Linked DNA regions of Homo sapiens. The protein of the gene in region 3 purifies or fractionates together with the protein of the main gene of each other region. This does not show direct contact. Each region holds a gene or a part of one and is shown on either strand. Other genes may lie near its edges.

What was found.
Region 1: the proteins of RBFOX2 (region 3) and PARL purify together in Homo sapiens (affinity purification with mass spectrometry; 3 studies listed by BioGRID and IntAct, with this or other methods). This does not show direct contact.
Region 2: the proteins of RBFOX2 (region 3) and PUM2 purify together in Homo sapiens (affinity purification with mass spectrometry; 3 studies listed by BioGRID and IntAct, with this or other methods). This does not show direct contact.

Annotation. Positions count from the first base shown.
Region 1 is NC_000003.12:183,881,881-183,889,027, reverse strand, and holds the start of PARL (presenilin-associated rhomboid-like protein, mitochondrial isoform 1 precursor), read left to right. Parts: upstream 1-4,147; 5' UTR 4,148-4,181; coding exon 4,182-4,306; intron 4,307-7,147. UniProt on the Homo sapiens protein: Required for the control of apoptosis during postnatal growth. Essential for proteolytic processing of an antiapoptotic form of OPA1 which prevents the release of mitochondrial cytochrome c in response to intrinsic apoptotic signals.
Region 2 is NC_000002.12:20,277,845-20,284,867, forward strand, and holds part of PUM2 (pumilio homolog 2), read right to left. Parts: intron 5,643-7,023; coding exon 5,499-5,642; intron 5,388-5,498; coding exon 5,103-5,387; intron 976-5,102; coding exon 739-975; intron 614-738; coding exon of another isoform or gene 567-613; exon of another isoform or gene 458-566; coding exon of another isoform or gene 363-457; exon of another isoform or gene 1-362. UniProt on the Homo sapiens protein: Sequence-specific RNA-binding protein that acts as a post-transcriptional repressor by binding the 3'-UTR of mRNA targets.
Region 3 is NC_000022.11:36,025,823-36,033,691, reverse strand, and holds the start of RBFOX2 (RNA binding protein fox-1 homolog 2), read left to right. Parts: upstream 1-4,867; 5' UTR 4,868-5,266; coding exon 5,267-5,452; intron 5,453-6,608; exon of another isoform or gene 6,609-6,628; coding exon of another isoform or gene 6,629-6,640; intron 6,641-7,869. UniProt on the Homo sapiens protein: RNA-binding protein that regulates alternative splicing events by binding to 5'-UGCAUGU-3' elements. Prevents binding of U2AF2 to the 3'-splice site.

The sequences.
Region 1 (7,147 bases), on a different chromosome or scaffold from region 3:
ACCATGTTGGCCAGGCTGGCGTTGAACTCCTTGCCTCAAGTGATCCACCCACCTCGGCCTCCCAAAATACTGGGATTACAGGCATGAGCCCCTATGCCCCGTCATGGCATTAGAATCTTTTATGATAGGCAGCACACAAGCCTGTGCTCTCTAGGGTGATATTATCTTTCTTCCAAGGTTATAAGCCAACTGCCCTTTGCTCTTGAGGAAAACATCTCTACCTTTCAAGATTGTTCGCTTGTTTACTATAAAAACTCACTATTAAACAGTAGATTCCCCAGGCTCAGTATTCTTTGGTTGAGATGCAAATCCACTGCATGTTCTTCATCCATTTGGCTCATGGCATTGCCACCATGGGACTTGGAGAACATGCCGTGGTAATATAAAGTGTTTTGTCTCTGACCCAGGAGTCTCCTGTCTTTTGCCAACATCCAATCTTTTAGCTTGCAAATAGGGTAAAATCAAATCCCAGACTTGACACCTCTGATATAACCAAAGTGAATTTATTTTTTAGAAACTGATGTGTATTTTCCATCAACGTTATTTCCATGTTGCTTAAGAGCCTGTGCAAGAACAGCTTAAGACCATTCAGTGGTTGTTTCTACCCATTCAGTGGCCTGAGCAGTGGGAGCTGCAGACCAGTCTTCTGTGGCAGGCTGAGCACTCCAGTCTTCAGTAGGGACCTGATGAATAGGCACAGAGGGCACCTGTACACCATCAGACCAGTCTCCAACCTCAGGCTGAATAGCGGTGAACTCAGGAGCTGGAGCAGTCCATTTGCCCTGAAATTCCTCCTTGGTCACAGTCTTTTCAGCAGCAACCTGCTCCTCTTTTCCAATCTCTTCAGGATCTCTGTAGAAGTAGAGATCAGGCATGACCTCCCATGGGTGTTCGAGGGAAATGGTGCCACACACGCGCAGAACTTCCAGGGCCAGCATCCACCAGCTCGGACCCACTGAGGGAGCTCCCTTGTTGTTGCATGTGATGGCAATGTCCACATAGCGCAGAGGAAAATCTGTGTGACATAGAGCAATGGTAGGTAGGTTAACATAAGATGTCTCTGTGAGAGGCTGGTGGTCAGCCCTGGGATCAGTAACCACTAGAAGCCGTGGCTCCCTGAAGGCTGCCTGGGTCTGGCTAGTGAAGGTTCCAGGAGTGAAGCGGCCAACAATTTGAGTGGCTCCAGTGGCAGCAGCAAACTTCAGCACAGCCCTCTGGCCAGTATTGCTAGAGGACATGACACTGACATCAACAGGGTTTTTAAAGGCAGCGATGGCACGAGCTGCCAGCAGAAACTTCTTGCTTCTCCCAGGTCCTCTTCAGATGTAGGATGTAGACGCCATCACTTTTCTTCTTACAGATGTGCTACTCCATTTGGAAGTCAAGGTTGGTACCACCTAAGTGGGTTCCTGCTGCAAGGAACTTAAGGACATCCTCCTCCTTCATTTGCAGGACATCAAGGGCTCTAGACATTGTGAAAGTTTCCCTTTAAGTTACAATGAGAATTGTAGGGACCAGCCCCACAGGGTCGGTGGGTCTCTCCCCACATGCAGAGACGAGAGAGCGTAGAAATAAAGACACAAGACAAAGAGATAAAAGAAAAGACAGCTGTGCCCGGGGGACCACTACCACCAAGACACGGAGACCGGTAGTGGCCCCAAATGCCAGGCTGCACTGATATTTATTGGATACAAGACAAAGGGGCAGGATAAGGAGAGTGAGCCATCTCCAATGATAGGTAAGGCCACGTGGGTCACGTGTCCACTGGACGGGGGCCCTTCCCTGCCTGGCAGCCGAGGCAGAGAGAGAGAGGAGACAAAGAGAGAAACAACTTACACCATTATGAGAGACTTTTAGTACTTTCACTAATTTGCTACTGCTATCTAGAAGGCAGAGCCAGGTGTACAGGATGGAACACGAAGGCAGACTAGGAGCGTGACCACTGAAGCACAGCATCACAGGGAGACGGTTAGGCCTCCGGATAACTGCGGGAAAGCCTGACTAATGTCAGGCCCTCCACAAGAGGTGGAGGAGTAGAGTCTTCTCTAAACTCCCCCAGGGACTACTAAGTAGCAGGTGTTTTTCCTTGACATGCTACCGCTAGACCACAGTCTGCTTGGCAACGGGCATCTTCCCAGACGCTGGCATTACCCCTAGACCAAGGAGCCCTCTGGTGGCCCTGTCTGGGCATAATAGAAGGCTCGCACTCTTGTCTTTTGGTCACTCCTCACTATGTCCCCTCAGCTCCTGCCTCTGTATGGCCCGGTTTTTCCTAGGTTATGATTATAGAGCGAGGATTATTATAATATTGGAATAAAGAATAATTGCTACAAACTGATGATTAATGATATTCATATATAATCACGTCTATGATCTAGATCTAGTATAACTCTTGTTGTTTTATATATTTTATTATACTGGAACAGCTCGTGCCCTTGGTCTCTTGCCTCGGCACCTGGATGGCTTGCCGCCCACAGAGAATCTAGAACAATGCCGTATGGGCCCCTCTCTGGGTTGTGTGGAAAAGGCGTGAATTTATTTTAGTTTTTCAAACAAGTCGTGCGCTGGGAGACATCACAAATGCTATTCTTTCTGAGGAACACTTCAATCCTCTTCTCTTGGTGACCTCTATCAGTTTCTCTGGGAAGCCTTCTCCCTGAGCCTCCCATGCCCCTTCCTTCAATTGGGCTATATCCCCCCTCTCTAGACTCCTACAGAGCCTTCTCCCCCAATACAATAGAATCTTTGTGAGGTCAGATATAGTGTCTTCTCAATTGTATCCCCAGGTTTAACATATCACCTGACACACTGTAGGTGCTTAATAAGAGCTTATGGAATGAATGAAGTGCTATTGCAGAGATAAGCATAAAGCGGTATGTGAGTACAAAGGAAGGGAATCTAAATTGGAGTGGAGGTCTGGGAAAGGCCTCCTGGAAGAGGTGACACTTGAGGCTGACCTGAAGGACAAGTCGGTTAGATGTTTCAAGTGGTGAGAACGGTAGCATGAATGCTCAGCAGTGGGAACGCGGATGGTGCCTTTGAGTAATGGCCAATGACTGTATGGCTGCAGCTAGGGTCGGGGGGAATGGAATGGCAGGGAATCAAGCTAACTGACAGGTAGTTGAGGGATGGATTATGAAAAAGTGAAAGCCCGCTTTTCATTTCAGGCTTGGATTTTGTGTTTATTTACTTATTTATTTATGAGAAAGGGTCTCACTCTGTTGCCCAGGCTGGCACGATATCGGCTCACTGCAACCTCCCGAGTTCAAGTGATTCTCCCACCTCAGCCTCTCGAGTAGCTGGGATTACAGGTTTGCGCCACCACGCCCAGCTAATTTTTGTATTTGTATTTGTAATTTTTTTGAGACGGATCTCGCTCTGTCACCTAGGCTGGAGTGCAGTGGTCCAATCTCGGCTCACTGCAACCTCCGCCTCCCAGGTTCAAGCAATACTCCTGCCTCAGCCAACTGAGTAGCTGGGATTACAGGCCCCTGCCACCATGCCCGGCTAATTTTTGTATTTTTAGTAGAGACGGGGTTTCACCATGTTGGCCGGGCTGGTATCGAACTCCTGACCTCAGGTGATCCGCCGGCCTCGGCCTCCCAAAGTGCTGGGATTAAAGGGGTGAGCCACCCCGCCCGATAGGCTTGGACTTTGTTAAAGGCATACAGAATAACACGAAGTGGTGAGATGCAGAAAAAAGTAGTAATTTAAGAAAACTTGGCTTGCCACGTTGGTTCCTCTAGGGACCAGCCCTGCAACTCCGGGCAAGTCCTATCCCCTCTGACCAGAGGCAAAGTGAAACAGTGATGACATCTACCTCTAGCAGTGCTGTGACGATTAAATGCGATCTTAGGCAAAGCGCCTGGTATGTGCCGTTACTCGAAAAAATGACAGTTGTCCCTCTTCGCTCTGGCCCCATCCTCCTCATCTGCAAATGCCGGGAGGCCGGGCCACTCTCGCAGGTCGCTCCCGGAGCCAGCTGAGCAGTGGGAGGGGAAGCGGTGGGACAGAAGGGCGCCAGCCAGTCGTCCGGGCACCGTGGCTGGTTCGGCTGCCGCTCAGCCGCGCGGGGGCGCTCTAGACTGCTCCTCGTGCTCTATGGTGTTGCCTTCGCCCCGGAAGTAGTTGCGCAGCTGGGGTTGGTAAGGTCGGGCCATGGTGGGGCAGAGGTTGGGAAGATGGCGTGGCGAGGCTGGGCGCAGAGAGGCTGGGGCTGCGGCCAGGCGTGGGGTGCGTCGGTGGGCGGCCGCAGCTGCGAGGAGCTCACTGCGGTCCTAACCCCGCCGCAGCTCCTCGGACGCAGGTAATAGCCGCCGCGCTCTGGTCTTCTCGCCTCTTGGTCCCTGAGCTCTGGCCGTGTATCCTCGGGGGCGGAGGCCGTCTGGGCCTCTTGTGCTGGCCCCAGCTCACCCCCTTCACCTTACCTGCCCCTTCTCTCTCCTCTCTCGCCTCCGTCCAGTCCTCGCTTCTCGCTCCCCTTGCCCAGCCCAGCCCCCCGCGAGCCTGCGCTTTCTCCTTTCCCATTGGGAAGGACGTGACTGGAAGGGGAACTAAGCTGAGGGTTCATTGCGTGCCACACTTCATAATCGCGAGTGGAAACTGTTGAGCCAGTTTCTGAAGTGAAGAAGTTAGTACAGCTGGCAGAATGGCGGTTTTTATTCTTTTTCCATCTAATTATAAAGGTTGTGTTCCATTACAACCAGTCGCCTTCTTTAGCTTGTGATCTAAGGGAGGACGAAGTCTGATGGAAGGTATCACTTTGTGTCTGGCAAAGTCGTAGGAGAGGCTTTATTGTTGAATTGAGACAGTGGAAGATTTCGTTTCCGGTTGATTTGGAAAGAAAACTGCCGAACCTTCCGAGTAGAAGTGTGAAGCGTATGGTTGATCAGTATTGCTGATTTTTGCATCACAGTAATTCATTTCTAATTTGAGAGAGAAGAGAGAAATTCCTCACCTGTTTAAGAATCTGATGTGCATTTGGCTTTGAAAATTTTCCTCCTCTTTTGTTCAAAACTTCATTCCTTCCAATTTCTGACTTGGTTAGATGGGTGCCTCGAATCCACCTGATTGCTGATAAGAAACATTGTTTATCAACACGTGGGATAGTCAGTGGTAAATAATCGAGGCTCTAATGTGGCGGAGCCATTGCCTAATCTCAAGGATCACCTGAAGAGTTTGTATGGATTTTATGTCCCAGGCCTCACCCCAGTCCTCCCAAATCACAATCAGGAGAGGGGTGGGTGGAGTGGAAGAACCTATATGTCCGACAAGCATTCCAGGTGAATTTTATCAGGGACTTGTGAAAACTTTACATACATTGTATCTTCATACACTAACATAGATCTGTCAGGCACTAATCTTAAACTCCTGGGGAGGTGGAAAATGAGGACAGATGGAGGTGGTAATCCCATTTGAGATTGCATGGTTTAAGGGGGAAAGAAAAGATTAATACTGGCCGGGCGTGGTGGCTCACACGCCTGTAATCCTAGCACTTTGGGAGGCTGAGGCAGGTGGATCACCTGAAGTTAGGAGTTCAAGACCAGCCTGGCCAACATTGCAAAACCCCGTCTCTACTAAAAATACAAGAAATTAGCGGGGCATGGTGGCGGGCGCCTGTAATCCCAGCTACTCGGGAGCCTGAGGCAGGAGAATGGCTTGAACCTGGGAGGCGGAGGTTGCAGTGAGCCGAGATCGTGCCATTGCACTTCATCTTGAGCAACAGAGTGAGACTCCATGTAAAATAAATAAATACTGTACGTGTATTAGGAAGCAACAGGAAGTGTGTTAAACATTTAAGATTTATGTACACATCACCGTATTGGTTTTAGGAAGGGGAAGCAAAAGAAAACTAATGAGCCTCTAGTAAAAATTGAGTATAAAGACCATTTGAAACAGTGAACCAGAAACACATGAAATGTTGAAGATTAGTATTTAATGTCTGAAAAGCTTGCCATTTGTATAGAAAGTTTGAAAATGACATTTTCGTGGTTGCATAAAAAATATACATGAGAATGTAGGCCTGAAATAGAGCATTTGCCTCTGGTAATAAGTTCTTAAAGTTAATAGTATCAGTTTACCTTATATATAACCTTTATTAGCTATATGTTGACTTCTTATGGCTTTGAAATTAGCGTGCAGAAGAATGACCCAATCCGTGTCATTTGATGTATTAATAATAGGCCTGAAGTGGGACCAGGAATTTGCATTTTACAAGCACTCTAGGTGGTGATACTAGGGTCTGAAAACTACTGCAGGCCCAAGGCGGCCCACCAGCCAAGAATGGTTTACATTTTTAAAGGATTGTAAAACAAAAATAGTAATATGTGACAGATTTCAGTAGTCCACAAAGACCGAAATATCTTCTATCTGGCCTTTTACACAAAAGGGGAAAAAAATCTTATTTGGGCTCCTTGTAAACTTTACTGTTACCAAGGTTTGAGGCTTGAAAGTGGAAACCTGTTTAATTTGCCAGTTATATGAAACTATCCAAGGGAAGAAAATAGTTGAATTGTAACACTTAACATTTTATATTTTTAAAAAACTTGCCGTTTGTATGGAAAGTTTATATTGAGATGATAGTCTCTCTCTTTCTCTCTCTCTCTCTCTCTATATATATGTGTGTGTATATGTGCATATATATGTATATATGTGTGTGTATATATGTGCATATATGTATATATGTGTGTGTATATATGTGTATATATGTGTGTATATATGTGTGTGTATATATATGTGTGTGTGTATATATATATATAAATATATATATATATATATATATAAATATATATATATATATATATATTTTTTTTTTTTTTTTTTTAGAGACATTGTCTTGCTCTGTTTCCCAGGCTGGAGTGCAGTGGCACGATCTCAGCTCACTGCAACTTCCGCCTCCCGGGTTCAAGCGATTCTCCTGCCTCAGCCTCCCGAGTAGCTGGGATTACAGGCATGCACCACCATGATGCCTAGCTAAGTTTTGTGTTTTTTGTAGAGACGGGGTTTTGCTGTGTTGGCCAGGCTGGTCTCGAACTCCTGGTCTCAAGTGATCTGCCTGCCTCTGCCTCCCAGTGTTGGGATTACAGGCTTGAGTCACCATGCCTAGCCTCAAAATATCTTTAAGTAAGATACTTGACATATTAGTCAA
Region 2 (7,023 bases), on a different chromosome or scaffold from region 3:
GACAAGATAGGGATTCATACACAGCCCCTGATATCCAAAGCCCTTCAAAACGTATTATCTACATGGATAAATACTTCCTGGAGAGGGAAAAAAGGTAATCACCAATTTAATAATTTGGGGGTGGGAACAATTTTAATATACAAATATAAACAAAGTTCTCAATGCTCCAACTTCAGGGGTACAACAAGCCTAAAACATTTTTTTTCTTTAACATATCCAAAAAAGAAGTATATGGCCCAAGCCTATAAGCTTCCTTAAGTGACAAATACACTAAATTCAAATTCACTGAAATAATTATCTGGTAAAATGGCCAGGCATAGAAAGACCAAAGCAAAAACCAGTGTACTAACCTAGTTCAGTAGCTATGTAACTAATGTTTTTCTTATGGTGTGCAAATCTTTTGATAGTGAAATTTCTCTTTCACTATTATGTTTATATAGTTGACTTTTCAGATGCTCTAAAACACACAAATCAAAAGCACAGACAAGAAAAAACACACCATTATATTTCATAAAAAAAACATAAGAAACAATAGGGGGGTCTTTACCTTATTGTACATTAGACCCTCACTTTGAATTTTCAGGAAAGTAGAACTTTTTCAAAAGACTAATATCTAAAAGCAAAAGCAATTTGGCATGTTTTAACCAACATTAAATATTTTACATATATTATAAACACACACACAAACACACATACATGTATACATACAAATAAAAAGGGTTTTGGTTTTTTTTTTACCTAAATGCAAACTGGATGAGGATCCATGTGATGAAAGTGATGGCGGTGGCGTAAGTGAATGTCCTGGAGTTTGGCTTGGCAGAGGCATGCCTATTGGACTTGGAGAGGAGGAAAATCCCAGACTATTGTAAAATGGTTGCCCTATGGGTGCTAGGCTGCTACTAGATCTTTTGTACAAGTCAGAGCTAGTAGATAGAGACTCTCTCCTTGTGGCACTACTACTTGCAGAACTGCCAACTGAAGAAGAAATAAAAAAAACCCTAATTACATACAGTGTTAACTGAATAAAATCTATCCCCAACTCTCGCTGGGCAATAACAGAAGTGATCACAATAATTATTTTTAGAAACATTTTGGAGAAGATAATTACTGTGATAACTATATATACTAACTTATTAATCATAAAAGGGTATAAATGCACCCCAATAAAGAACCAAATACTTAACAGAGCAGTCATATGATTCATTATTTCACACATATTTACCACTGACACATCTGATTACTGTGCTTTAATACCCTGGTATGATTTATAAACCCTGGAATTGCAAGTTGTCTGCATTAGGACATGCTAGAGATTAAATTCCATTAAGTTTAAATTCTGATAGTATCCTAATCTCTGAAACCTGCTTCTTAGACTTTAACTCAATGCCAAGAAAAGATTATATGAATAAATAATTAGTACATTTCCTTCACCATTCATATTTAATTTGTCATCTAGCTGTGTTCAAAACATAGCCCTTTAAGTCCATATTGGCCCGAATATTGATCAGTTGTGAAATACAGTGAGCAGCTAACTCAACAGTATTTTTTACACTACGCATTCTCCCTTGTTCTTTAACTACATTACAAAGTAACTCGACTTTTCTAAAATTAATAGCTCTCACTGTTATCAAACCAAAGACATACTTTCACTTATCCCACAGGACTCTTCTACTCCTAAGATGCTAGTACTACTGCCTCCTGAGCCCCTTACTCAAGGCTGATCAGGTTTTTGTCATTTGATAATACACAATTTCTCTTACTTTACATCCCTTAATACAATGCATACCAAATTTTTACTTAATATCAAATGTAACTATTATCCTTCTAATCCTTTTTCCTTTTATAGTGCAGAAAATAAAGGTCATGTAGGCCCTGGTGAGCTATACATGCTCAGAAGAGCTAATCAAGATCTGGCTGTTAATCAACACCTGTCTGGATAATCAAATTCCACAGCATGCATCTCTAAGGGCTGTCCAAACTCTCAGTTCTCAAGTCTCACTTAAAGCCCATATATTCAAGTACGTTTCCTTCCTATTTCTAAGCACTAGCCTCTTTTAACTGAATAACTTTTACATCTAAGAAAATTTCAAACCACATTTCTGAACCTGCCAAATACATTTTTAAATGACAAGCTCTATATTCGGACCAATATGGCAATGCTTTTCAAGGGATCTAAGTTTCTATTAAATCTTATTTAAGCACAAGTCATATATAAATAGGTCATACAGGGTATAAAGAAAAAAATTAAGGAGAGTACATCATGGGTAGACCAAGGTAAGAGTATAATACAGACGGAAAACTTAATTACGTTGGTTTTGCCAAATTCAAAATTCTATAAAGGGGTAAAAAAACCAGGCTTATGCTACCACATTAGGCAAAAGATTATAATGCTATTCAACCTTTTATACCAGCCAATGCAGTTTCTGAGACTGATCATGTTTTGTTGAAGATTTTACATTTTAAGATATCATAGTAAGAAAATACTAGGTGTCTATATGCATTTTTATTGCAAAAGTGAATTATAAGCACATGTAATAAACAGTTATTCTTGAGTTGGTTTTGGTAAAACTGGCAATGTATGCTACATTAACTATGCTAATTTAAAAGGACACTGTCAAAGTGATTTTTCTAAAATATGGCTACATTTTAAATTCCTATTTATTTCAGAAAACAATTTAACTGACAATGAAAAGACAACAGCTCTAATAAGAGCAGCATTATTCCCCTGACAAATAATCCAAGAAACCAGTTTTGACACATGCAATATTATTTTCCTCCAAAAAGGAAAAGTCAAGCCAAACATTTAAAAATAATTCAGAAATAACCTTAAATATAAAGAAGCTGGCTCTTTAAGTTTTACTATATGTCTAAATTATCTCCAACAGTATGACTATGAGATATGAAACAAAGTGTACCTAAAATATCTAAGAGGGTAGACAGACTGCTAATCATTCATCGACTGTGAAAAAAGGCTAAATTATAAACTTTCAATTGTAACAACACTTTAAAAAATAACAGGTCATAGAAAAGATGATTTAAATTATATGTTACGATGTTTAGGCTTCTTGGCCAACTATATCATAAAATGGGGTATTTAACACTGTTAAACATTAATAATTTCATCATAGAGGTAAGAGAAGGACTGTGTATGTTACTTGTATATGTGTATACAGGCACACAACCATATTATGTTTTAGAGCTCATGTAAGTATGTAATTGCCATAATGTGAAAAGGCAGTGTGCAAACTTGTAAGAGTCCATATATATAGCACTTGAAAAAACTCCCACAAAATGCCCAAGAGGAGAGATACGATGGACTCTTTACTGGCATTCAGGGGTGGCAATCACTAATGCTCTCTAAAGCAAGGTAAAATGAAGCTCTTACAGATTGGAGTCAGAATTAAGTAAGCCATGCTTGTAAATAATGGAGGTGTGAAGGTTAGTTTTGGGGAAACAGGGCATCTGTAGTGGACAAAATGTTCATGTCAATCAATTCCTGAAAGGGGGAAAACAGCCTTAACTAAGAAACAAATGGAAATTTGAAAGAATTGAGTAGGGGCCTAGAAATCTGAACCAGACGATCAGTGACATACTACGTGAGAAAGGAAACATGGGGTTTAATCAATGCTCTCTTTTTTCTGAATTATTTAGGGCCTACAATTTATAATTTAAAAACTATTTCCACAAGTTTGTTTTTTATGTTACTTGTTCTTCCAGTTTTCCTCAGAATATTTAGGATTCTTTGGAGAAAATGTCCCAATTGTGTTAGAAACAAGGAATGAGTCCTATGGGAGTGCGTGAGGTGGACAAAGAGATACACAACTCCAAAAGCAATGAAAAAACTCAAGTACAAAATTGAAAAGATTTAACAATCCCCATGTTCACTGGATTTTCCCTCAGAAATTCTTATGAGCAGTCTTCAGATAATTTTGTGTCAGTCCAATATGACATCCACTTATTGTATTTCATTACAATAAATGAAAAAAGATTCTGCCATCTAAAAGTTTGTGGCTGTTCTAGACCATCCTTCCTGTATATATGAATGATAAAAGTTCAGAAGACACTCCCTTAGAAAACTGGCAAGCATTGTTAATAATGCCTGGCATGTGTTAGTTCTGCCATTTTCCACACCAGAAAAGAATATAATTTGATGTGGTAAGAAAAGAGATCAGAAACAGATATTAAGGACTGTAGCAAGTTATGTTATAGAAACAGAAAATCTCTTGAGGTCCAAATAGTCCTATCCTCATGAAGTAAAAGCTGCCAGCTGCACCGATAGAACTGGGTCAGCTGTTTTTTCCCTAATGTTTCCTGAGTACTGTGGAAACCTCACAGAAAACACCAAGTGTATCAACAAGAAGTCAACGTGGGCCTCTTCTGATTTCACTTAGTTCTTCCTCTACCACAGGATCCAGGAACCAGTTTGAGTGGGTCAATTATTTAGTGAAGCTATTTAAAATTTTGATTTGTTAAGTGTTATATAAAGCTAAGATACATGAATAGATACCCTTTTAAGTGAATTTTTAGTGACAAAGGCTAACTTATTTAATCTAAAAGATAACCATACTGGTAGCTTCTTAGGGGATTCTGTGTAGAACATTTCAGTATTTATACATACACATATGTATTTTTTATATTAGGCCAAATTTAAAAACTGTAATAAACTACCAGCATTTAATAAGAATAAACCATCTAATAAGGACACAAAGATAACTGCTTTAAAATACCAAAAATTTAAGACGGCAAAATATTTGCCTCCACAAACATTATGTAGTGAATGAAGATGAGCTAATAATTAGTGAATAATATATTGACCCAAATAAACCCTACTAAAACAAAAATTACAGTAATCAATTCCTAGAGCCAGGGAAAAAGGAAATGTATTATATATGAGTAAAGAACAGGCTGCCTATAGTGAGTTAAACATTGGTGAGTGTTGAAAAGATTTGCAGGATTTTTTTTTCCTACAAATTAAACCAGTAGTCCAATACTTTATTCCTGTCCTTCCTATCCTACATGCTATTATTGCTTATTTTAATGTTAAACACACTCATATACCTCTTCCACTTAGCAGAGTACACTCATCGTAAAAACAAACTTACCTGATGAACCAAATCCACTGAGGGCTGAGCCTATAGCAGCACCCAAAGAGTTACCACTTCCAAAGCCAAGAGATGTACTTCCAGGTTGACCAGGTCCATGAGAAAATAAAGAACTACTCTGGGAGCTATTAGTCAAAGAACTGCTTCCATAAAATGAATTAGATTGCAGATTAGTGCTTGGCTGCTGTTGCTGCTGCTGTGGTGGCTGAGTGCCAATTGGCCGAAACAGACCATTTGTGCTGCCTGTAAGGCTACTTGCAGTTCCTCCAGCTGCTGCTGCTGCTGCTGTAAAATAAATTTCAGATACTTCTTTAAACCACCCAGAAAATTCTGTATTTTAAAAATGGTATCTCAACACCAGAAAAATATTATCCTAAAAATGTCAGTTACACTTACCAGCTTGTGCTGCTGCTGAACTAATTAAAACAGGTGTTGGAGCCATTAACCGAACTGGAGCTCCAAGGCCAGTCCTTGCTCCAGGGCCAACCACTAAGGCACCAGTCTGATCATAATAGGCAGTTGGAGCTAGTACTTGATAGCCTAAATAAAATAAAGGTTTACTAATGAAAGCACTTATTACAAAAACATGCATATTTGTTTTTCCCTGCATTTGTATTTTTTCAACTAGACAACACAGCTATTTGTACCATTACTATAAAATCCTTAGTTAATATATGCAAAGCAACACATTTGACAAGGTCTTACTAAATATATGAAAAAGTAATAGACTGTCATTAAACATTTTTTCTCTAAATTTTACTCAGGGGCCACAAAATGAAGAGGTATTTTCCTTAATATAGAAACTACAGGCTATGAAGGAAGGGCTGATATTAGAAAAAAAAAATCACCATTTAGCCCTTCGAAGAAGAAGGATTAAAAAAACTGGGAGTAGCGAGGTAGAACACTGTACGAAATGTTTACTGTGCAATTTCATTGAAGTTCAAAATCAAGTGCCTCATTACCAGCATTCCGTTAGATTTTCATTTGTAATCATCTCTTTAAAAACTTAAGCCAAACATTCTATTTGTGAAGATTCTCAAGCTAGAGTTTAATTAAAAATCACACAGGCTTTAGTTTTATTGTAGCCTTAAGCACAAGGTAGGTAATCTTCACAAATAGTGGAGAATAAAGTTAACTTCTTAGCAGCCTTTCTCAATGGAGATTCTCTGTTGAACCAAAAACACAGAAAATGATTTAAGTAAGTATTTTGTTAATTCTCCTAAGGATGGTATATAACAAGCATCACTCTGGAATCACAGGAGAGAAGTTAGCTATATACACTGTGGATACTTCAGAGCAGTAATAAGGCTTTATTCTTTTCTGGAACTCAGTTTAGAAAGGCTGCCTTATAAAGCGACAAAAAACTGAGGCCCAATAACCTTACAACTATCAGCAAAACATGCATTGGCAACTTTTTTTTCCCTTAAAGAGTGCTGTCTTGCTCTGTTGTCTAGGCTGGAGCACAGTGGCATAATCATAGCTCACTGCTGCCTCAAACTCCTGGGCTTACATGATCCTCCCGCCTCAGCATCCTAAGTGGCTGGGACTACAGGTACATGCCACCAGGTCCGGATAATTTATTTTTATTTTCTACAGAAATAGGGCCTCACTATGTTGCCTAGCCTAGTCTTTAACTCCTGGGCCAGCGATCCTCCCGCCTCAGCCTCCCAACTGTGTCTGGTCCTTTAAGAAGTTTTTAAAAACACAGACTATACTGAAATACATTCCAACATCAATTTTTAAGTCTTATTTTGTTAATACTATGCAGAAGTGAGAGTTACAGTAAAATTAGTGATAATGCAGCATGAACATTTTATTGCCTTTAAACACAGTAGGCTAAATTCAGCTCAAATATAATAAACAGTGCTCAGATAAACACTTCACCTGTAAGACACACATGCATAGGTTGTTTTTAGTAAAT
Region 3 (7,869 bases):
ACTGCAACCTCTGTCCTCCTGAGTTCAAGCTATTCTCCTGCCTCAGCCTCCTGAGTAACTGGGATTACAAGTGCACGGCACCACACCCAGCTAATTTTTGTATTTTTTAGTAGAGACGGGGTTTTGCCATGTTGGCCAGGCTGGTCTCGAACTCCTGAGCTCAGGTGATCTGCCTGCCTCGGCCTCCCAAAGTGCTGGGATTACAGGCATGAGCCAGTGACCGAAAATATTTAATGTCCTCTTCCTCTGTAATGTTTCCTAACTACCTGCTTCTAAACAAATGGCTGCAGATGTATATAAAAGAAATGATCGGCCGGGCACGGTGGCTCACGCCTGTAATCCCAGCATTTGGGGAGGCCGAGGCGGGCGGATCATGAGGTCAGGAGATCAAGACCATCCTGGCTAACATGGTGAAACCCTGTCTCTACTAAAAATACAAAAAATTAGCCGGGTGTGGTGGTAGACGCCTGTAGTCCCAGCTACTCGGGAGGCTGAGGCAGGAGAACGGCGTGAACCCGAGAGGCGGAGCTTGCAGTCAGCCAAGATTGCACCACTGCACTCCAGCCTGCGCAACGGAGCAAGACTCTGTCTCAAAAAAAAAAAAAAAAGAAAAAAAAAAGAAAAGAAATGATCTGGTCTTTGTGCTGCCATGGATGCATTTTGCCTCTTCTATGATTTGTAGGCGTTTAACTCTCCTCTTTCTCCTTAAATACATAATGCTTGTTTCCAGGGCAGGGTCCAATTTTTCTTTGTTCTGCCTGGTCATTCAGACATTTCTATACTGCATTGCTCTGTTTCTAAGGGACTTGAGCGTTACCTGAATAACAAAAATTTGAGTCACTGGCAGCCCCGATCTCAAATCTCATTTCTTGCTGGGTCAGGGGACAGCCCAGGAAGATCTAACATCATTAAGATTTCAGTAGTTTGGCAAGGCAAGCAGGGAAGGGAGAATTCTCTTTTTTTGGAGAGAGAGTCTCACTCTGTAGCCCAGGCTGGAATGCAGTGGCGCGATATCGGCTCACTGCAACCTCTGCCTTCCAGATTCAAGCAATTCTACTGGCTCAGCCTCTTGAGTAGCTGGGATTACAGGCAGCTGTCACCACACCTGGCTAAATTTTTTGTATTTTTAGTAGAAATGGGGTTTCACCATTTTGCCCAGTCTGGTCTTGAACTCCTGACCTCAAGTGATCTGCCCGCTTCGGCCTCCTAAAGTGCTGGGATTACAGGTGTGAGCCACCATGCCCAGTTGGGAAGGGAGAATTCTTATGCTACCAGTTCAATAAGTAAAAATTTCAGAAGACCAACTGCTGATGTCCCTAGGTTAAAGAAAAAAAAAAAAAAGACAAAACCCGCTGTTGTTTCATAGGCCACCAGGAAATATCCTGGTTATCCCTCAAAGCCATACTGCTTGGTTGAACAGGATCAGGTTGTGGGGTACTGCCAAGTGGAAACCGCTGACTTAGGTTGGGGCTAATTCAGCACAAGAACAAGCTTGTAGGCACTTGGACTTCCACCTTGGTGGTCCAAATAATAATACTAAGAGATGTGTCAGGGCTGGGCGTGGTGGCTCACGCCTGTAATCCCAGCACTTTGGGAGGCTGAGGCGGGAGGATCAGTTGAGGCCAAGAGTTTGAGACCAGCCTGACCAACATGGTGAAACCCTGTCTCTGCTAAAAATACACAAAGTTAGCTGGGCATGGTGGTGCGTGACTCTAATCCCAGCTACTTGGCAGGCTGAGGCAGGAGAATCGCTTGAATCTGGGAGGCGGGGGTTGCAGTGAGCTGAGATTGGGCCACTGCACTCCAGCCTGGGAGACAGTGAGATCCTGTCTCAAAAAAAAGAAGAAGAAGAAGAAGAAAGAAGAAGAAAGAAGAAAGAAGAAAGAAGAAAGAAGAAAGAAGAAAGAAGAAGAAGAAGAAGAAGTTGTTTAAGGCTTCTCTTTCCAAGGCCCCTGGTTAAGCTTACTGTATCACTAACCAAATTAGTTGATGAATAATTACCACCTATTAAGCAGTTACTATGTTAGGCACTGTGCTAAGTGTTTACTTTTGTCCCATTTAATCCTTAGAACAACACTGTGACTATTATTGTTATCCTACAAATGAGGAATGGAAGGCTTAGTGAAACAAAGTAATTTGCCCAGCATAGTGGTTGCACCAAGGGGTTACTGGGGTGCTTTGCTTGCCGCATGTGAATCTCTAGCAGCCCCACTCAAGTCACCTTACATAATTAAAAAAAACCCAATAATAATGATAATGATATTCTTTGATCTTGACAATGAATGTTTTTTCACTCTCATTTAAAATGTGAATAAAGGTCAGGCCTGGTGGTTCATGCCTGTAATCCCAGTACTTCGGGAGGCCAAAGGGGGGGAATCACTTGAGGTCAGGAGTTCGAGACCAGCCTGGCCAACATGGTGAAACCCTGTCTCTACTAAAAATACAAAAAATTAGCCGGGCGTGGTGGTGGGCGCCTGTAATCACAGCTCCTTGGGAAGTTGAGGCACAAGAATTGCTTGAACCCAGGAGGTGGAGGTTGCAGTGAGCCGAGATCACACCACTGCACTCCAGTCTGGGTGACAGAGCGAGACTCCATCTGAAAAAAAAAAAGTGAATAAAGTGATAATGGTACTACTAATAAGCTATTATTAGTTAGCTATAAGTGTTAGCTGTAACACTTATGGAGCGCTTATCCTAAATCATTCCGTTCAAAGTTCTAAACGTGATAACATTAAATTCTTACAATAATCTTTTCAGGAAGGTATTATTGTTATCCTAATTTGCAGATGAAGAAACTGAGACACAGAGGGGGTAAGTAGCTGTCACAAGGCATCATGACTTGCAGGTGGCAGAGCTAAAACTCTGCTATTTTTACTGATTTATAACACAGCCTAAGTAATACAAACAATATGCTCAATACAACAACTCACCTTCAAGGCAAGTCCTCCCGACTTCCCTTCCAACCAGTCTGCAATCCCCAAACACCTTTTATATGGAAGTTCTTAGTCACCACTGGTCCCAGATTACGTGGGCAGGAGGTGGGAAGCCTGCGTTCTCATCTGGGTTGGTCTGACTCTGAAGCAGGGATCTTTACTGTTGTACTGTTCCAGCCCCAGCCAGGTTAAACCCAGGTTCAAAGGCCAAATCACACACTGGTTGGAAATGACCTTGGAAATCATCTAACCCAGCGTTTCTCAACCTCCGCACTATTGACATTTGGGGTTGGATAACTCTCCTGGGGGGACCGTCCTGTGCATGATAGGATGTCAAGCAACATTCCTGGCTTCTACACACTAGATGCCAGCAGCACCTCCCCACTGTAACAATCAAAAATGCCTTCAGTCGGCCAGGCGCGGCAGCTAACTCCTGTAATCTCAGCACTTTGGGAGGCCGAGGCAGGCGGATCACCTGAAGTCAGGAGTTCGAGACCAGCCTGGCCAACATGGTGAAACCCCATCTCTACTAAAAATACAAAAATTAGTTGGTGGCGCACACCTGTAGTCCCAGCTACTGGGGAGGCTGAGGCAGGAGAATCGCTTGAACCCAGGAGGCAGAGGTTGCAGTCAGCCGAGATCGCGCCACTGCACTTAAGCCTGGGCGACAGAGCGAGACTCTGTCTCAAAAAAAAAAAAAAAAAAAAAAAAAAAAATGCCTTCAGTCACTGACAAATGTGGGAGTGGAGGTGGTGGAATGGCAAAATTTCTCCTTGGTTGAAAGCCACTGATCCAAACCATCTCATTTTACAAATGATGGAGCTGAGGTCCAAAGAGATGAAGTAACTTGTTTAAGCTAGTTAGCAAAGCCAAGATTAGAATCCAGGTTATTCACGCAATATCCTTTTATTTCTATAACGTACAGGGCACGATATGGAACTCAGAGGAAGTCACTGCAGTCCTTGTCCTCACAGTCTGGTAGGGGAGAGAATCTATTGCACAGATATCTCTATCTCCACGAAGTTGGTAAGTCATAAAGTGCTCCTCAGGCAGCAAGGTACGAAGAAAGAGAATATGTTCTCGTGTTCTGAATTCCGGATCTGCCACTTTTTTGCTGCAGGATTTAACTAAGGTTCAGTTTCATCATCAATGAAATGGAGATCATGGTATCTACTTATATCACCAGTTTGAAACGGGTCTGTGGATGCATTGTGCAAACTCTAAAGCTCTTACAAACATCGGGTATTATTACTAACTTCATTAGGAATGTGAGTTATATTAGAGTAAAAGCTCTCAGAACTGGGGTGAACCATAGAGGGGTGGCTTCATTCCTCGACCTTCCAATTTGAGACATTTTTTCTTCTGCGGGAGGGGAAGCAGGCAAATAGCCTGCCTCTCACAGAGTGCCCATTCCCTCTCCGGGAACCAAGGTGCTCAGGCGAGTAAACTCAGGACTTAACTCTGTACAACTAGTACCGCAAGCAGGAGCCACTCCCTGGCCTTCGGGTCTCTCAAGCCCCGCCTGCTCCAGGATACGGCCCCGCCCAGAAAGGAGACAGACCCCGCCCCCCCCGCGCTGCCCCGCACTCCAGCCGCGCTGTGCCTCCAGGACAATCCCAGGCCCGTGCCGGAGATTCCCGAGCTTCCCCGATCGCTTCCCGGCCTCCCTCGGGCAGCCAGCGAGGAGACTACGGAGATTGCCGAGGGGGCCTGGCCCCGCCCCCCCCGCGGGCCGCCACCGCCCCCCTCGCCGTAGCCTCCCGCGCGGGCTGGAGTTCTACATCCCGGTCCCTCCCTCCCTCCCTCTTTCTCTCTCCCCGCCTTCCCGGTGCTGCCACAGTGGCGGGTCGGAGGATCCCGGCCAGTCAGCTCGTTCCTGCCTCGCGCCCCTCCTCCCCCCAAAATAAACAGCCCTCCCCACGCCTCGGGAGCCCGGACCGCCCCCTTCCTCCCTCGGCCGGCGTGCTGTGAGGGAGAGTGTGAGCCAGCGCGGCCGGTGGGCGAGCTCCGGGAGTGCGAGAGGCGGGGCGGCGCGGCGGGCCGGGCCGGGTTTCGCGTGTGCGTGCGGGGGCGCGAGCGAGTGCTCATCACGACCCGCCAGTGGCCCCGCGCCGACAACCCGGCGGGCGGGCGGGCGGGGAGCAAGCGGTCAGGCAAGGAGCGGCGGCCGCGAGGCGCGGAGGGGCGCGGAGTCCGCTCGCGCGCACGCACGCACGCACGCGGGGGCGGGGGCAGGCGCGCGCCCGCCTGTCGCGACAGTCGGGGCCGAGGCCCAGGGGGAGGTGGCCTGTCGCGGGTCGCCCGGCTCCCGGAGGCGAGGGGGGCGCGGGCGGATGGCGGAGGGCGCCCAGCCGCATCAGCCGCCTCAGCTCGGGCCCGGCGCCGCCGCCCGGGGCATGAAGCGGGAGTCGGAGCTGGAGCTGCCGGTGCCCGGAGCGGGAGGAGACGGAGCCGATCCCGGCCTGAGCAAGCGGCCGCGCACTGAGGAGGCGGCGGCCGACGGTGGCGGCGGGATGCAGGTGACCGCGCGGGACGGGGCGCCCAGTTATTGCGGGGGTGGGCGTGAGGGTCGACACCGGGCTCCCCGGCTTGGAGAGAGGGAGGGCCTCCGGGAGTCCTGGGTTGGAGGTGGGATGGGGGGCCATTCGGGGCCTGGTTGGAAGGTGGGGCGAGCTCGGGCTAGGAACGAAGGTTGCAGGACTGAACCTGGTGTGCCCGAGAGGGTCCTGATTCCTGAGGGGCCAGGAGGCACGACGAGTGGATAGGTTTTGGGGGGAAATCGAACAAGGTTGAGATGGATTCCATTTTTTCAAATCCTTCCTTAGTGCCTTGGGGTGGAGTGGAAGCCGGGAAATCCTGGCTTCTCTGGACTGAGTCGAGGAAAAGGAGATCTGGTGGGAAACCTCCCGAGAAGAGGGAGTACCTTTTGGCAGCCCTGGGCACACGCTGGGATGGGGAAGAGAAGTGGCATTTCAATGAGAGGAGTGAAAAGAAAACTCCTCGAGAGAGCCCCGAGGGGATGTGGCTGAGATTGTGGGTTAAATCACACAGAGTGTGAGAAGTACAAGGAGTTTGGTAATGTTATGGGGACACGGTGGTGCTCAGTCTCATTTACTTTGTGGAGCATACTAATGAGTCTGAAGGGAGACACTAGACATGTCCCTCCTGTTCTTTGCCAATTGCATTCTACATCACCAGGACACAAAATAGCTCTTTAATGTCCCGGGCTATAAAAAAAATTTTTTTATAGGGCTATTAGAAGACTGGATTCTCAATTCTGGATTGAAAGATAAACGTGGTTAATTTGGGTAGGGAATGGGAAAGGTATTGATGTCAGCTGACTTCATAGTTTTGAAGAAGACCTTGAAACCTTTGGAGGTTTTACGATTTGGTCTTTGCCCAGAAAATACTGCTATGACATGATGAGTCTCACCTACCAACAGTTGTGCAGACTTGTGCCTAATTCTCTCGGAGTCATAGGATGTTAGAGGGATGCTAGGAGGACTAGACATCATCTTTTCCAGGGGTTCTTAACCTGGGAAGACTTGGAAGATTCTTACTCATAGTAGGTGATGTGCACTTTTTGGTGGAGGAGAGTCAATAGTTTTCATCTTTGTTTTTTTTGGAGGAGATTCAAGTCCCAGCTTGTTTTAACCACCTTATTTTATAGATGGGGAATCAGAAGTCCAGAGAAGATGGTGACTTGGGTAAGGCCACCCAGTTAGCTAATAGTAAAACTAGAACTAGAAGCCTGGTCTTCTAATTCCTATTCCTGTGCTGTCTCCATTACACCACTCTTGGAAATCTCTGCAGTGCTAAAAGACTTCCTGTGCTCTGCTCCCTGCTTTTCAAGCCTCTGCCTGACTTCCTGTGTTAGGGACAGAGCTGTACTTAAGCCTAGCATGTTTGTTGTATGCTTCTTGGTCTCCTTTGCAGAGTTTACCCTGTTACTTCTGTTGATTTAGGTAAAGTGACCCTCTTGGTGTTTATTTTTGAATTCTTTTGTTTTGTTTGCCTGCTTTTATTTTCCATTAGAACTCTGTCAGGCAGAGGGATTGTGAGAAGTAAAAGCTCAGGGCCATGGCAAAAAAGACAGGAATGTGGGAGACTTCAGGTGAGGTGAGCTAATATTGGATGATAAGGAGGGAAGACTGGATGTAGGTGCTGGTGAGCAGGTTCTACTTGGTGTGTGTGTGTGTGTGTGTGTGTGTGTGTGTATGTATTCATTTATCATTTCTGTCAATCCTAGTTAATAGTGAGACCCCCGTCCCTTTCCCTCATTTACTCCTGGGGCCTATTATCTGTTGGTTGCCTTCAAACTGGCTAAAGATAGTGATATTTGGAAATGGAGCAGTGTGTAGGGACTTCGCAGGGGTGTGCAGAGGAAAGAGTGGTTAGGTCCTTGGGGGTACAAATTGGCAGCTGAGAGTTATCCCTCCGAGAATCCTTTTTTCACTTCTTGTATTTTATTTTCTTTCTATACATTCTCTTTTTTTTTTTTTTGCCCAGGCTGGAGTGCAATGGCACGATCTCGGCTCACTGCAACCTCCACCTCCACCTCCACCTCTGGGTTCAAGGGATTCTCCTGCCTCAGCTTCCTGAGTAGATGGGATTACAGGCGTCTGCCACCATGCCCAGCTAATTTTTCTTATTTTTAGTAGAGAGGGGGTTTCACCAGGTTGGCCAGGCTGGTCTCGAACTCCTGACCTCAGGTGATTCACCCACCTCAGCCTCCCAAAATGTTGGGATTACAGGTGTGAGCCACCACACCCGGCCTTCTATACATTCCCATTGTTGTAGGTCCATTCCCCTATGTCATACAGGTATTCAAATCATTGATTTAGGCCCTGCCTTCAACTAGCTGAATGGTTCTGCAGAAATCTTTCATTTTGGGGCCTCTGTTTTCCTTAGTTGTAAAATAAAGTATGTGTACAAG